Homo sapiens: one gene and its partner. The protein of the gene in region 1 interacts with the protein of each later gene in a pairwise test. Each region holds a gene or a part of one and is shown in the gene's direction. Other genes may lie near its edges.

Region 1 (3,752 bases):
TGATCATGCCACCGCAGTCCAGCCTGGTGACAAATGAGACCCTGCCTCAAAAAAAAAAAAAAAAAAAAAAGAGGAAGGTGAGCGCAGTGGCTCATGTCTGTAAATCCAGACACTTTGGGAGGCTGAGGTGGAGGTTCGAGACCAGCCTGGGCAACATAGCAAAACCATGTCTTTACACAAAATAAAAAATGAGTCAGGTGTGGTGGCACATGCCATTGGTGCCAGCTACGTGAGAGGCTGAGGTGGGAAGATTGCTTGAGCCTGGGAGGTCCGAAGCTGCAGGGAGCCGTAACTCAGGCATCACACTCCAACCTGGCTGACAGAATGGGACCCTGTCTCCAAAACCAAAAGATTCCAGCTCGAAAAATAATTGTGGGGTGGCGGCAAAAGCTCCTGACTGGCCTTGACTTTAGAGTGAATCAATGAATTAATTAAGGGCCTGCCTGTTAGTGAGTCTCCTCTGAAATTTAGCCCAGAAATTTCCTAACTCAGCAAGATGAAGCAGGAGGTAGAAGGAACTAAGGGGGCAATAAGCAGGAGGAAGGAATGTCCCCATGAGGGTGACATCTTCCCTGAGAGCCCCAGGACGACCAGCAGGAAGCCAGGCGGGGGGCAGGCAGGAGGACTCCAGAAAGCTCGGCCTGAGGGGAGGCCCGTGGGGGTGGTGGGGAGTGGTGCGGGGAAGGCAGAGGCTGAGCAGCAGGTGAGGTCCCCTGGGTTTTGGGGGCCAAGCCTGGGGCTCGGGGCGAGCAAGCATGAGTGGAGAAGGGGCTGCTGTGGTTGGGCTGGGGTGGACTCCCCACCTGCGTCGTCCAAACATTAGTGTGAGTGCACCCACACAAACACATACACAATCACACACAACATGTGAGCAATGGGCAGGACTGGTCCGGCCCCACTCAGTGCTGTCACCATTGGCCCCACAGCTGCCCACAGCCCTAGAGCTCTGGGCCCAGATTCCTGCCAGCCCCACCTGTCCAGGCCAAGGTAAGATGATGGAGCAAGGGGGTGCCAGGGCAGCAAAGCCCCCCACGTGCCCCTTTCCCACAGGGCCCAGGCTCCTGGCATCAGGAGGCTGAACCCAGGCCCTGGCCCAGACTGTGTGCTTCCAGCCTCCCCTCCTCTCGACACCAGAACACAGCCTGGCCCCAGCTTCTGGGAAATATAGAAAAAAATGGGTGAATGATCCAGTGACAGGGTGTCTTGTTCCACACAAGACACAGTGAGCAGGGGTTGGGGGAGGGGCTCCTGGCTGCGGGAGGCACACCACACTCACCCAAATGGCATCTGTACTCAATACCGCACCCTTCCCTGGGGGACACCTGGTCCCAACCTGAGCTGCCTTTCTCAGGACCCCAGCCCCAGCCCGGCCCAGCCCAGCCACACCCTGCCACTCCCTTCAGCCAGTGTGGCTTCAGGTCAAGAGGCTGGGCAGGGTCAAGGTGGCAACGAGGGGAGAAGCCGGGACACAGTTCTCCCTGATTTAAACCCGGGCAGCCTGGAGTGCAGCTCATACTCCATGCCCAGAATTCCTGCCTCGCCACTGTCCTGCTGCCCTCCAGACATGCTGGGGCCCTGCATGCTGCTGCTGCTGCTGCTGCTGGGCCTGAGGCTACAGCTCTCCCTGGGCATCATCCCAGGTAATGAGGCTCCCCGAGCTGCCCCTACACAACACACACACAGGGCACCCCCCAGCCCAGGCTGACCTGATTTTTGCTCTCCCCCTGGCCAGTTGAGGAGGAGAACCCGGACTTCTGGAACCGCGAGGCAGCCGAGGCCCTGGGTGCCGCCAAGAAGCTGCAGCCTGCACAGACAGCCGCCAAGAACCTCATCATCTTCCTGGGCGATGGTGAGTGAGCCAGGCCTTCCAGCCCTGCAGCCCTCACAGCCCCGGCGCCCGGACCCTCAGTGGTTCCAGGAGAGCCCTGGGGCCCAAGCCTCACACATTTCTGTTCCTTCAGGGATGGGGGTGTCTACGGTGACAGCTGCCAGGATCCTAAAAGGGCAGAAGAAGGACAAACTGGGGCCTGAGATACCCCTGGCCATGGACCGCTTCCCATATGTGGCTCTGTCCAAGGTAAGTGCTGGGCTACCTTAGAGTCCTCCAAGCACAGAAGGGGAATCCTGGCTATGGAGTGTGGTAGGAGGGAGGGACCCTAAACAGCTGGGGCTCCAGTAAGGAGTTAGAGGCAGTTGGAATCCCAGAGGACAGAGATCAGGGTCTGGGTCTCCGTGTCTGCCCCAGAGAAGAGCTCAGAGTGTCTCTGTCCCCAGACATACAATGTAGACAAACATGTGCCAGACAGTGGAGCCACAGCCACGGCCTACCTGTGCGGGGTCAAGGGCAACTTCCAGACCATTGGCTTGAGTGCAGCCGCCCGCTTTAACCAGTGCAACACGACACGCGGCAACGAGGTCATCTCCGTGATGAATCGGGCCAAGAAAGCAGGTGAGCTGGGGCCCGCTGCTGGGTCACGGCCAGGTCACAGACGTTGGTCACATATACTGACCTCTGACACCCTTAGGGAAGTCAGTGGGAGTGGTAACCACCACACGAGTGCAGCACGCCTCGCCAGCCGGCACCTACGCCCACACGGTGAACCGCAACTGGTACTCGGACGCCGACGTGCCTGCCTCCGCCCGCCAGGAGGGGTGCCAGGACATCGCTACGCAGCTCATCTCCAACATGGACATTGACGTGCGACCCCCAGGCCAAGGGCTGGGGCTGGGCAGAGAGTAGCAGGGAGGGGGCACTAGCTCAGACCCAGGCAACCAAAAGCCTTATCTGGGCCAGCAGGGTCTGGAGGTGGGGTTGTGGGCGTAGAAGGTGCAGCCCAGGCTGGGCCATTCCCACAGCCTTGGGGAGGGGAGTCAGGGGCTGTGCATGAGGAGGGGGCACGGGGCCAGCCAGGGCCCCAAATCCACCTGCCCCATCCTCTGTTCCCAGGTGATCCTAGGTGGAGGCCGAAAGTACATGTTTCGCATGGGAACCCCAGACCCTGAGTACCCAGATGACTACAGCCAAGGTGGGACCAGGCTGGACGGGAAGAATCTGGTGCAGGAATGGCTGGCGAAGCGCCAGGTGATGGGGGCTGGCGGGTGCAGGGGGCACAGCAGGGGGAGGGCAGAGGTGTGGGGCTCAGGGCTGTGGGCTGAGGCCTGGCTCTCTCCCTCCCCACAGGGTGCCCGGTATGTGTGGAACCGCACTGAGCTCATGCAGGCTTCCCTGGACCCGTCTGTGACCCATCTCATGGGTAATGACCCCCTTCCTGCCCTGGCATCCCTCAGATGGCCTCAGATGGCACCTTCTGAGCCTGTGTGCACATCCGCCAGCACCCGCCCACCCCCAGCCTGCCAGTCACCACAGGACCCCTTGTCCCACAGGTCTCTTTGAGCCTGGAGACATGAAATACGAGATCCACCGAGACTCCACACTGGACCCCTCCCTGATGGAGATGACAGAGGCTGCCCTGCGCCTGCTGAGCAGGAACCCCCGCGGCTTCTTCCTCTTCGTGGAGGGTGCGTGGTGGCCCCTGGGGAGTGGGGGTTGGGGGTTGGAGCAGGGCAGGCTCAGCATCTCCCCCCTCTGGCCTTCCTGCAGGTGGTCGCATCGACCATGGTCATCATGAAAGCAGGGCTTACCGGGCACTGACTGAGACGATCATGTTCGACGACGCCATTGAGAGGGCGGGCCAGCTCACCAGCGAGGAGGACACGCTGAGCCTCGTCACTGCCGACCACTCCCACGTCTT
Region 2 (3,652 bases), on another chromosome or scaffold:
GTTGTAGATACGATATAATGCATGATTGGATAATAGGAAATACCTTTTAGTAGAATGTATGATTCTTGATAGGATATCCTGCCCATTGGCTTTGACAGTTGAATTAACCTATTTGGCTGACATTGACCCTCCTACTGACCACGATATATAAGAAAATATGAAATTAATATAAAAGCTATCTTGTACTGGTAGCAAGATAGCTACTGGTAGGAAACATTAACAATAGCATCGTAAAATATAGAATTGAAAATGTGAGTCATTTTGCTTTTAAATCTCTATCATGTACATGACTGACTTCAGTTGTTCTCTCTCCTCCCTTTTGTTCTGTTTCAGAGGTTGAAGGCTGCATTGACTCACCACCCTGCTGCCATGTCAAATGGGAACATGAACACCATGGGACACATGATGGAGATGATGGGCTCCCGGCAGGACCAGACGCCACACCATCACATGCACTCGCACCCGCATCAGCACCAGACACTGCCACCCCATCACCCTTACCCACACCAGCACCAGCACCCAGCACACCATCCTCACCCTCAACCCCATCACCAGCAGAACCATCCACATCACCACTCCCATTCCCACCTTCATGCACACCCAGCACATCACCAGACCTCGCCACATCCGCCCCTGCACACCGGCAACCAAGCACAGGTAGACCTTTTCCGTGATCTCTTTCCCCTTCTTATTCTCCTTCTTAACAGTGCAAGCTCTAATGCTGGGGTCATTTGCAGCAATCTTGTTTGACAAGCCCAGGTGTTCTATCTCACATTCTAGGGGCTCTGTTTATCTCCTAGGAGGCAAGCCTTACCCATAAGACCCTACCAGATCATAATTTCTATAAATAATACACTAAAAAATATCAGGTCTAGTCTCTAAGGGCAAGCATAAACTTTAAGTTCTCCAAAATCTATTTTTGCAGTGTGTCAGAAAGTTAGCCCCTCTCAAAAGTAATATGAATCAATGGATTAGGAAGAACTTAAGCTTGTGAAGAAAGATGTGAATTAAGAATGAGAAAAACGAGTTAATTCTAACCCTGGTTCTAGCTGCTATGTTTTAAAACATCATAGAGACTCAATTTTGTCACCTGTAAAATGGAAGTTAAATACAACAGGCAATCTTCTGAGTAACAGTGAATGTTAAAAATCTAAAGAGTAACAATTCAAGGCAGACAAAGAAGCTCCATCATGGATGCTAGGGCGTAAGGTGCTGTGTAAATGGTGAAGAGAGGTGACTCATCCCCCTGAATGAGAAATGCGTTGGAGGGAACAGAAAGAGAGCCAAGTTCTGTAGATGATCAGACCAAGAGAAAGGCCAAATCCCAGTGGGTGAGAGTCACCAGGAGTGGCTGCAAAGAAAGCCAGCATTTAGACAAAACTGAAAGAGGGTTGGGGGACCAGGCAGACATTATGTCACCCACGGCCAAGAAGAGAGGCGAGTCCTGTACTGGAGTGAGTTTTAGTAAGTGGATGAAGGGCATGTCCAGGAGCATGGCTGGGCCTAGACACTTTGGATCCTCAAGCAGAATGACTTTCATCCATACCTTCCACCCAGTCCACACTGCCAGCTTCCAACCAGCTGAATCAGAAGGGTGTCGGAAGCATGGAACCGCCAAAAAACACTTATTCACTGTCTCCTCTGTCATCTGCCTCTGGAGACGTGACTTTATACCCGGCAGCTTTTTGAACTCTTGAGCCCCCCTCCATTAACATGCACCAAACCTGGACAGCCATCCACAGAATGGGTCAGGCACAAGCAACTCTCGAAGCTATTCATTAGATAAACTGTCTTTTGCAAGGTTCTTAGAGGTGTTCTACATTGTGAATAAGAATTGAGCATTAGAATGAGATAACCTTAATTTTTTTCCTGCCTTCCTCACTGTGTGATTGTGAACAGAAACAACCTCTCTACCCCTCAGTTTTCCCATCTGTAAAATGGGGCTGGGTAATAGTAGACTAAACTCCTAGGCTCTTATGAGTATTAAATAAGAGAATCTCTGTAAAGCCCTTGACACAGTGTTCAAAATATGTTATTCCAAACCAGTAGAAGTTTAGCAAATTGTATAGCAATCAAATGCTATCCAGAGAACATTTTTAGTCACATTTTTAGTCAAACGCCATACTAGAACATGTATTTAGAAAGAAAAAAAAAAACTACAAAGTCAATGATGGGCAAATTGATTCACATTTGTACTTAGTTTATAAGGAAACGAGAACATCAAGGTTTGGTTGCCTTTATGGGCAAGTTATTTCACAGAGCAAGTTATATAACAATTCTTTGAATATAAAAGCCATTCACTAGCTAATTACCAATTAGCCAATTGCCCTCTGTTTCAAGTCAGTAAGTGGCCAATAGTATATGCAATTAGTTAATTGCTATTATAATTAGCTTTATGAACAGTTGCTTTTTTTAATTGTATGCTAAAAAGAAAGAGCCCAGGTTGGTCTTGCTAAAATTTGAACCAGATCATTTAGGCAGTATCCCAAAATACCACTCTTAAATTGTATTAACTTGGCTGATTACTGAGATCTTGCCATTTTGCTTAATTGTATGATTATCTGAAAGTAGGAATAGAATCCTTTGAACTCTGAGATTCTAAGGTGATTTGGAATAAAATCTGCCTTTTTGAAATTATAATTTATTACTTTTGATCAAAATTTTCAGAGCATCTATGCCAAGAGAATTCTGCTTTAAAAATAAAATTACAAGCGACAATAATTACCAGGTATACAAATTCTGGTTTTAGGGTTGTATTTGCATTTTCTCCTGGCTTCTTGTGCTCCTCCTGCATGTAAGGATGTGATTGTAGAGTGCTGGTTTCAAGGAATTTCTCTTAATCAATCCTGAACCTAATTACACCTGAAACCACGTCACTTATGCCTTTGGGTGAAGGCACAGGAAAAGTATCATGGGTTACAGGTTGATTAAACTTAGGGTAGGAGGATACAGAATTGAAAGATAAGTCCCTGCAATGGAGATTAAAAATCAATTTTTTCCTATTTGAGGGTTTTGTCTGGGGCTGGCAATAAGAGATTATAATTCACAAAAGGAAACAGTTAAAGGCAAAAATATCCGAGCAGTTAGCACATTCCCTCTTAATGCTTTTCTTTGCAGTAGTTAGCTCAGGAATTAGCATCTGGAATGACAAGTGCTAAGCCCCTGCCAATAACAAGGATGACGCCTTCACTAGCAACTCTGATGAGTAAGACCTTAGACAGTTAATTTATTTTGTTATTCCTCTATAATCGGGAGGAAAAGAGTCACCAACAAACAAACAGTTCTAGAAAATGTCTTTGCTGGCCTGGTGCGGTGGCTCACGCCTGTAATCTCAGCACTTTGGGAGGCTGAGGCGGGTGGATCACGAGGTCAGGAGTTCAAGACCTGCCTGGCCAAGATGGTGAAACCCTGTGTCTACTAAAAAACTACAAAAATTAGCCAGGCATGGTGGCAGGCACCTGTAATCCCAGCTACTTGGGAGGCTGAGGCAGGAGAATCGCTTGAACCTGGGCAGCAAAGGTTGCAGTGAACCGAAATCGCGCCACTGCACTCCAGGCTGGGCGACAGAGAGAGACTCCGTCTCAAGAAAAAAAGAAAATGTCTTTGCTTTGCATAAAATTACTAAGATGCAGTTCAACCTCAACCCTGGGCC

The links.
Region 2: the proteins of ALPP (region 1) and CREB5 interact in binary tests that used the Homo sapiens proteins (3 or more experiments, as listed by UniProt).

The regions. Positions count from the first base shown.
Region 1 is NC_000002.12:232,377,239-232,380,990, forward strand, and holds the start of ALPP (alkaline phosphatase, placental type preproprotein), read left to right. Parts: upstream 1-1,512; 5' UTR 1,513-1,564; coding exon 1,565-1,640; intron 1,641-1,706; exon of another isoform or gene 1,707-1,732; coding exon 1,733-1,849; intron 1,850-1,961; coding exon 1,962-2,077; intron 2,078-2,274; coding exon 2,275-2,449; intron 2,450-2,525; coding exon 2,526-2,698; intron 2,699-2,947; coding exon 2,948-3,082; intron 3,083-3,181; coding exon 3,182-3,254; intron 3,255-3,384; coding exon 3,385-3,519; intron 3,520-3,601; coding exon 3,602-3,752. UniProt on the Homo sapiens protein: Alkaline phosphatase that can hydrolyze various phosphate compounds.
Region 2 is NC_000007.14:28,803,866-28,807,517, forward strand, and holds part of CREB5 (cyclic AMP-responsive element-binding protein 5), read left to right. Parts: intron 1-333; coding exon 334-657; intron 658-3,652. UniProt on the Homo sapiens protein: Binds to the cAMP response element and activates transcription.